Linked DNA regions of Homo sapiens: region 1 is linked to region 2. Evidence: fine-mapped expression QTL. A gene starts in region 2. The other region holds a variant in brackets. All regions are shown on one strand. Distances are from middle to middle.

Region 1 (4,385 bases), 48 kb before region 2:
GGAGCCCCACTCCTGCAATCCTGAATCATAATCATGATTATGATTAGTCTGAAGCATCACGCTTCTGATGATAATGAGATTAGGAGCTACAACTGCAGGCAAGCAGAAGCTGCAGAAGCCTTTGGTTGGGAAGTCAGTGATTATAACTATGCTTTGAGATATTGGTCTCTGGGATATCAAGGTTTATGCAAGAATGAACAGTTTGAGGGGAACTTTGACTTCCATAGACATTTTTCTTAATTTTAAAAAATTGTTTTCAATTTTTAATAAAAATTATATTTAGTAGAAACCAGGTCTTGCTGTATTACCCAGGCTGGTCTTGAACTCCTGGGCTCAAGAAATCCTCCTGCCTCAGCCTCCCAAAGTGTTAGGATTACAGGCATGAGCCACCATGCCAGCCCATAGGTACTTTTGCATAAAATTGACCTAAGGATGCACCTTCAGTGTCTACCATCATGCCTGTTGTCCTTTCCCATTGAGAGGTGACAGCGTGCTGGCAGTCCTCAGAGCCCTCGCTTGCTCTCGGCACCTCCCCTGCCTGGGCTCCCACTTTGGTGGCATTTGAGGAGCCCTTCAGTCCCCCACTGCACTGTGGGAGCCCCTTTCTGGCCTGGCCAAGGCCGGAGCCCACTCCCTCAGCTTGCAGGGAGGTGTGGAGGGAGAGGCATGAGCGGGAACCGGGGCTGTGTGCGGCACTTGCGGGCCAGCTGGAGTTCCGGGTGTGCGTGGGCTTGGTGGGCCCCGCACTCGGAGCAGCCAGGCAGCCCTGCTGGCTCTGGGCAAAATGGGAGACTTAGCACCCGGGCCAATGGCTGCAGAGGGTGTACTGAGTCCCCCAGCAGTGCTGGCCCACCGGCGCTGCACTCGATTTCTCGCCGGGCCTTGGCTGCCTTCCCACGGGGCAGGGCTCGGGACCTGCAGCCCACCATGCCTAAGCCTCCCACCCACTCCATGGGCTCCTGTGTGGCCGGAGCCTCCCCGACGAGCGCCACCCTCTGCTCCACGGCGCCCAGTCCCATCGACCACCCAAGGGCTGAGGAATGCGAGCACACGGCGCAGGACTGGCAGGCAGCTCCACCTGCAGCCCCGGTGCGGGATCCACTAGGTGAAGCCAGCTGGGCTCCTGAGTCTGGTGGGGACGTGGAGAGTCTTTATATCTAGCTCAGGAATTGTAAATACACCAATCAGCACCCTGTGTTTAGCTCAAGGTTTGTGAGTGCACCAATCGACAGTCTGTATCTAGCCACTCTGGTGAGGACGTGGAGAACCTTTATGTCTAGCTCAAGGATTGTAAATACACCAATCGGTACTCTGTATCTAGCTCAAGGTTTGTAAACACACCAATCAGCACCCTGTGTTTAGCTCAAGGTTTGTGAATGCACCAATTGACACTCTGTATCTAGCTGCTCTGGTGGGGCCTTGGAGAACCTGCGTGTGGAAACTCTGTATCTAACTAATCTGATGGGGACGTGGAGAACCTTTGTATCTAGCTCCGGGATTTTAAACGCACCAATCAGCACCCTGACAAAACAGGCCACTTGGCTCTACCAATCAGCAGGATGTGGGTGGGGCCAGATAAGAGAATAAAAACAGGCTGCCCGAGCCAGCATTGGCAACCTGCTGGGGTCTGCTTCCACGCTGTGGAAGCTTTGTTCTTTCGCTCTTTGCAATAAATCTTGCTACTGCTCACTCTTTGGGTCCACACTGCTTTTATGAGCTGTAACACTCACCGTGAAGATCTGCAGCTTCACTCCTGAGCCCAGGGAGACCAGGAGCCCACCGGGATGAACGAACAACTCCAGACGCGCTGCCTTAAGAGCTGTAACACTCACGGCGAAGGTCTGCAGCTTCACTCCTGAGCCAGCGAGACCACGAACCCACCAGAAGGAAGAAACTCCGAACACATCTGAACATCAGAAGGGACAGACTCCAGACACGCCACCTTAAGAGCTGTAACACTCACCGCGAGGGTCCACGGCTTCATTCTTGAAGTCAGTGAGACCAAGAACCCACCAATTCCGGACCCACCATCTCCCCTTTCACAATCTCCCTTTCTCTTTGCAAAAGAAAGGTACATCTCTTACCCATCCTGAATCTTATATTGCAAATTGGTCCAGGATATTAAAAATTCATCTCTTTAAACAGGACACCTATAGGAGGCTTCAAGTCTTTCCCTGTCTTATACATATTTCTGTTAAGTTTGAAGCACCACAGTGGAAACAGTGTAACTTAGCACATGTTGAGATGTTAGAGATATTGACCAAGGAATAACAAGCTTTATTCCTTCTCCCATCTCTAGACTGCTGTGAAAGAATGCTTTGCTTCCAAAACAGAATCCTATGAGGGCAAA[TGAGGGCAAAA/A]GAAATAGAAGTTCAGTAGGAAATACCAAACACGGCAGCACCTTCTGTCATCCCAGCACAAACTCAGGGCCTTGCTCTCTGCCTTGGATAGTTATTCAATTTAGAACTAGAATTCAGACAAGAGATAAGGAAACACACATTTTATTGAAATTGAAAACTGAAGCCTAATTGGCTATTAATTTGATAATAAGACTGGTTTTGTCAATTTGGTTATATGACACATATTTTCCTAAGTTGAATGAGTTGCTTCTGTAGCTCTAAGGTTCCGACAAACTATAAAGCCCATAGTAAGATAAAACATTTTATTTTTAAATAATTATATTTGGTCCAGGCATGGTGGCTCACACCTGTAATCCTAGCACTTTGGGAGGCCTAGACGAATGGATTGCTTAAGTCCAGGAGTTCAAGATCAGCCTGGACAACATGGCGAAACCTGGTCTCTAAAACAAACAAACAAACAAAAAATTATATTGGCAAGGCATACTAAAGTTAATATTTTTATGTCTCCAATTCTTTCTCAGTATATTGGGCTACATAAGTTTCCTCTATATGAAATAATGAAACATATAAGTAATTTTTTTTTTTTTTTTGAGATGGAGTCTCACTCTGTCACCCAGGCTGGAGTGCAATGGCGTGATCTCGGCTCACTGCAAGCTCCGCCTCCAGGGTTCAAGTGATTCTCCTGCCTCAGCCTCCCAAGTAGCTGGGACTACAGGAGCCCCCCACTACGCCCAGCTAATTTTTTGTATTTTTAGTAGAGACGGAGTTTCACCGTGTTAGCCAGGATGGTCTCGATCTCCTGACCTCGTGATCCACCCGCCTCAGCCTCCCAAAGTGCTGGGATTACAGGTGTGAGCCACCGCGCCCGGCCAAGTAATATTAATTTGTTACGTTTTGGTAAGAATTTTCTTGGAGCCGGGCGCGGTGGTGGCTCATGCCTGTAATCCCAGCACTTTGGGAGGCCAAAGCATGAGGATTGCTTGTGCTGAGGAATTTGAGGGGCAACATGGCAAAACCCCATCTTTACAAAAAATGCAAAAATTAGCCAGGCATGGTGGCATGCAACTATAGTCCCAGCTTATTGGGAGGCTGAGGTGGGAGAATCACCTGAGCCAGGGGAAGTTGAGGTTGCATCGAGCCATGATTGCACCACTGCACTCTAGCCTGGGCGACAGGGTGAGACCCCATCTCAAATAATAAAATAAAATAACAAAAATAACCCTGGCTCGTTTTAAGAACTCATATAACACCAAAATGTAAAAAGTGAAAAATTAACCCCTTTGTCCCACCCATTTCATTTTCTTAAAGCTATTGCAGTTACAAAATGGAATGATTTCTATAATACCACACCTCAGGTGGGAAAAAACATAGACTAGCTAGAGAGGAGAGGAGTCAAAAGGTGAGGAAGCCTAACTCCTGGGTCACCCTGGGTCTAAATCTGGATCTGTGCCTGCCCTGAAGGCCTAACTCAATGTGCTCAGCTGCAGGTACACTCACACCCTGAGGGTAGTAAGGAATAACACTGCCCCACTCTTTGTGTTTCCAGATGCCTCTGAGACCCAGGGCCCAGAGAACTTCTGTGCATAGACCCTGCAGGCAGATTCCCCTTCTGGGGCTCTACTAACTCTGGTACCCATATATTTCAGTCCTTTCAGGGACTTGCATGTTTGAAAAACCTGCTGGTTAACCTGGATGAATCTCTATTTGGTGTAACTGGTAGCTCTTCCCCACATTCCTTCCACCCACCAGCATGTCCCACCCCAGGAATTGACTGGCCTCAGAGAGTTCACAGGGGATGAGGAAGGGAAGGTTGAGCATGGTCTCAGTTGCACAGCTGCCCCACACAGCTGCTTGGAAAGCTTTGGTCTTCTGATCCCGCTTTTGTGCCCTTCTTGACCCGAGGCAGGTCCAGAGCCCCTGGGCAATAAAAGGACAGTATTTACTGGAGGAGCACCAGCCAGTTCACTTCATTCATCCCACCTTGAGATATTTGGCTGCTCCTGCAACATATTGGTAGCTCCGTGA
Region 2 (4,385 bases):
ATTAACTATCTTTTCTTGAAAAAAATAGCCAAGTAAAATCTGCCTCTAACCCTAAAAAGAATATAAATGCTGCCTAAAACTAAGTTCATTCTAGTGGCTAAAAGTTAACAAATTCTTTCAACCCATCCAAAAATAGAAAGCAGTCCGAGAGCCCCATAAAATCTCCCCTCCCCCATCTAGATAGGGCTTCCATAGCCACCTCCGCTGGACTCCTCCCCTCACTTCCAGAGGGATTTTGCCTTGAGCAAGTCGGCCAATAAACAGTACAGCTCGAAAGCACACAGATTGCCTAGGCTGATGACAAACAGTACATTGAAAACAAAACAAACTCACTTTAAAAGGTGCATCTTCCCTGTTAACCTTACAAATGCGAGGCTTGTCTTAATCTCTGGAAGTATCAGCTTTAAAATCTGCAGTTTTAAAAGTGGTCATCTGCGCAGTACTCGAAGGCCTTTCAAAACACAGGTGCTGAACACCTCCTTCTTTAAGATACCTTATCTACGGTAGGATGTTCCTAATCACACGGAGGCCGGCCAAACTCTGGGCACCGCAAACCCACGATAAAAACAAATGCTGGGCCAAGACCTTGTCCAGAAACAGGCCTCAGTACTGCCTGGACTTAGGATGAGTCTGTAGGACTGTAAATGCTTGGAAGGCCAGCCTTTACTCCCAAGTCCAAGCGTAGTCTCCCTGCATGCCCCAGACCTTTCCCCCATCCACGCCACACGACACGACACGATCAGGGCGGGACAATTATTTTTCTTTAAACTCCTTCTGCCCGCGCCGCCCAAATTACAGGCCCGATCGCCGCGTTTAAAAGGCATCCTATGGCTCGGGAGTGTCAGGTGGCCGGGCCGGCACCCTCCAGCATCCTCGCGAACCGCGTTATCGGTGCCGCACTCGGGGCTGACACGCTCGGGGCGGCCCGGACTCAACGGGCGGCAAATCCTTGGCCACCCGGACGGGCCGATCGGCCCCTTTGTAAGATGAAGTTCCAGACGAGGCCCATTGTTCAGTTACATAATCTCAACGGACAACCTCGGGGCAGGGCCAAACACAAGGGCTGCCAACTTTGGGGGGCGGCGCAGGAAAGCGAGGGGGGAGCGGCCGGCCGCTTCTGTAACCGAACCCAGGCAGCGGCGCTGGCCCCTCCGGCGCCGCGGCCCCGGCCGCCGGGTGCCCGCGCCCGCCGCTCTCACCTTGGGCGTGTGCGGGGTGTCGAAGAGTCGCAGCTTGCGGAAGGTCTTGTGTGGCGGGGTGCCCGGGTGGTCCGGCCGCGGCGAGCGGCGGCCTTCGCCCGCCCGGCGCGCCCCGCAACCCCGCGGCGACGCATCTCCTGGGCCGCCGCAGCGCACCGGCGAGAAAGAGCTACCCAGGAAGTAGGGGGCCGCCGGCGACTTGACCGGCGACGAGGAGCCGAAGCCCTCCTCCTCCCACGAGTCGCCCTCCGCCCCACCGCCCGCCTCGTCCGCGCCCGGGCAGGCGCCGGGCAGCAACAGGTCCTCCTCCAGCTCGCCGGGGCTGCCGGGGGCCGGCCCGGGCGAGCGGCGGCGCTCGGGCCCGGGCTCCGTGGGGCTCCGCGCGGGCGGCAGCGGCGAGTCGGGCTCTTGAAAGGCCGAGTCCTCCCCGGTGCTGTGGCCGCTGCCCTCCTCCTCCTCCTCTTCTTCCTCCTCCTCACAGTCGCTGCAGGGCGAGAAGATCAGCTTCTGCCGCAAGGTGCAGGCCGCCCCGGCGCGGCGGGGTGGCGGCGGCTGCTGTCGGCTCAGGAAGCTCATCGCGGCCCTGGGGACGGGGCCGAGGACAGGAGAGCGGAGGCCTGCGGGGTCCAGGACACTGCGGGCCTGGGGGCGGGTCCGCCACGTGCGGCTGGGCGCGCCTAGTCGCAGCCGCGGCGTCTCTGCGCGGCGGCGGCCTGCGGCTCCGGGGCGCTCGGGCTGCGGACGGTGGCGGCAGCGGCGGCGCGGACTTTCCGGCAGAGGCGGGGCGGCCCGAGCACCGAGGCTGAGGTCTCCTCAGGTCCAGTCTCAGGTTCGGGCTCCGCGGCTTCCCGCGACCGTTAACCACGTGAGTGCCCAGTCCACCAATCCCAGTGCAGCTCCGGGTTTGAAAAAAAAAGGAGGGCGCGACGTAGCCCGCGGGGGAAGGACCAGCTACGCGATTTTGGCGGGAACCCGCTGGCTCCACCCCCGGCTCGGCGCCAGCCAAGTCTGGGCGGGCTGTGGTGTTCCGGGCCTATGAGCGAGCCTGGGGCGGCGGGGGGCCCGGCCCGGCGCCGCCCGAACACCGCCCGGACGGGGCTGGGCCTTCTGGGAGGGGCAAAAGAGAGCTGGATTCGCCTAAGCCGACCCGAAAGCCGGCCTGGACGCACCCCCCTCGCTGCTCCTCCGGTGCTGGGGGATCTGAAGAGGGGCAGGCGGCCGGGCAGCGCCTCCGGGTCTCTGCGAGCTGGGAAGAGCCAGGGACCGAATGGCCTTCGGCCGCTGCCCTCGGAGGCCGCTTCTTGCCCCTCGTCCCCTGGGGCGAGCCACTGGGGCGTAGTGGGCGTGGCAGTGGGCAGCCACGTTCAGGGTCGAGGTCTGAGCCGGAAATGGTGACTCGGGCCTCGGGACCTTTCTGAACTGCGGGAGCCGATGTGCTTAGGCTGGACACTGGCTGGGAGGAGGCCTCCGAGCCCCATTATTTCCCCGGGGTGGGTGACTGTTAGGGGCGGGTGTCAGCACAGCGAGAAGAGCTCTCCCAAGCAGGGGTCCACCTCTGCCGACCTTGTCCGCGGCCAAAAGAAACAGCAGCACAGTTGCCCACCACGAAACCAAGTGCCCGGCACACGATCTCCGTGTTTACATTTGTTCGCCAGCACGTGGGCATGCGTTGGCAAAACCGATTGGCCCGGCTCGCGGCAAACTCAAACGCAATTTTAAAAAATTTCCCTAGTGCTTCGTTAAACTGATTTAATCTGTCCCTTAATGCACTTACACGTTTCTTCCAGTTTTCTTTTTTCTTTCTTTGTTTATTTATTTTTTTTTTTTTTTCTGAGACGGGGTCTTGCTCTGTCACCCAGGCTGGAGTGCAGTGGCACGATCTCGGCTCACTACAACCTGCAACCTCCGCCTTTAGAGTTCAAGCGATTCTCATGCCTCAGCCACCCGAGTAGCTGGGATTACAGGCGGCTGCCACCACACCTGGCTAATTTTTGTATTTTTAGTAGAGACGAACTTCCCAATGTTGGCCAGGCTGGTCTCCAACTCCTGATCTCAAGTGATCCGCCCGCCTCGGCCTCTCAAAGTGCTGGAATTACAGACGTGAACCACCGCTCCCGGCCTCTTCCAGTTTTCTGTTGTAAACAACCCCGTGGTGTATATGCTTCCTTCTCCATGTTTTTTGTTTGGTTTGGTTTTTTTCGACACGGAGTCTCGCTCTGTCGCCCCAGGCTGGAGTGCAGTGGCGCGATCTCGGCTCACTGCAGCCCCCACCTCCCGGGTTCTCGGGTTCCAGCGATTCTCCTGTCTCCCGGGTAGCTGGTATTACAAGCACATACCAGGCCTGGCCAATTTTTGTATTTTTACAAAATGCAAAATACGGAGTTTCACCATGTTGGCAGGCTGGTCTCAAACTCCTGACCTCAGGTGATCTGCCCGCCTCGGCCTCCCAAAGTGCTAGGATTACAGGCGTGAGCCACCGCGCCTGGCCTTTTTAAAATACTCTTTTGGATACCTCCCTGGAGTTAGAATTCCTCAGTCAAAGGATATAAACTGGCAAACTCCCCCTCCAGAAACACAATACATTCTCACTAGCAGTGGATTAGAGCACACTCTGTGAATTCAGGACATCAGTGGATGTTCGTTGATGTGGTTTTGTTGTTTTGATTCATATTGTTGAACAGTTGTCATGGGTTTAATGATAATTTACATTTATCTCTATTGCCTATTTTTCTTATTGTTAGCACTTTATGCATATTAACACTTTGTCATATATGTTGTTCTAATGCTTTTCAAAGGCTAAATAAACTCAAGCTGAATTTTTCTTGAAACACACGGTAGTACTTAACACATCAAATCGGGAATTTCCTGAGATCACACAACTGAAGACACAGTGAAGGATCAACAGCTGTCTTTTCTCCTAACATTTGCTAACTGGTGTATAAATGTGTTTTTTATATGGTCATGCAAACTTAATTTTAAGCTCTTGGAGGACAAGAATTCTAGACTTGTATAAGGAGAGTTAGTCAATGATCCACAGTGGCCAAAGCCAAGGAGTGATTTTCAGAACCCTTGCTCCAACACTTCCCCTCCTGCCACTCCTTTTTTTTAAATTTTTATTTTTCGAGACAGGGTCTCACTCTGTCCACCCTGTCTCAAAGTGGAGTACAGTGGTGCAATCACGGCTCT

Which allele goes with the higher level. Positions count from the first base shown, and alleles are read on the strand shown. Sizes are in standard deviations (SD) of each study's normalised expression.
For the expression in lymphoblastoid cells of the gene that starts at base 2,039 in region 2, TGAGGGCAAAA is the low allele of the variant in region 1 and A is the other (small effect, 0.38 SD a copy in GEUVADIS).

Evidence for each region. PIP is the estimated chance that this variant, and not a neighbour inherited with it, causes the effect.
Region 1: its variant is the best candidate, but not a certain one, in a credible set for the expression of WEE1 in lymphoblastoid cells (GEUVADIS, PIP 0.56).

What each region holds. Positions count from the first base shown.
Region 1 is chr11:9,619,694-9,624,078 of GRCh38, reverse strand. No RefSeq gene overlaps it. Among named protein-coding and RNA genes, the nearest start is that of SWAP70, 42 kb to the left of the region's middle. The variant TGAGGGCAAAA/A (reference allele first, on the strand shown) is at 2,351.
Region 2 is chr11:9,571,324-9,575,708 of GRCh38, reverse strand. It overlaps WEE1 (WEE1 G2 checkpoint kinase), which reads right to left and starts at 2,039. Exons shown (of 11, transcript NM_003390.4): 1 at 1,200-2,039. The coding sequence starts at 1,775. RefSeq lists silencers at 1,417-1,516, 1,807-2,016, 2,037-2,386 and an enhancer at 1,961-2,813.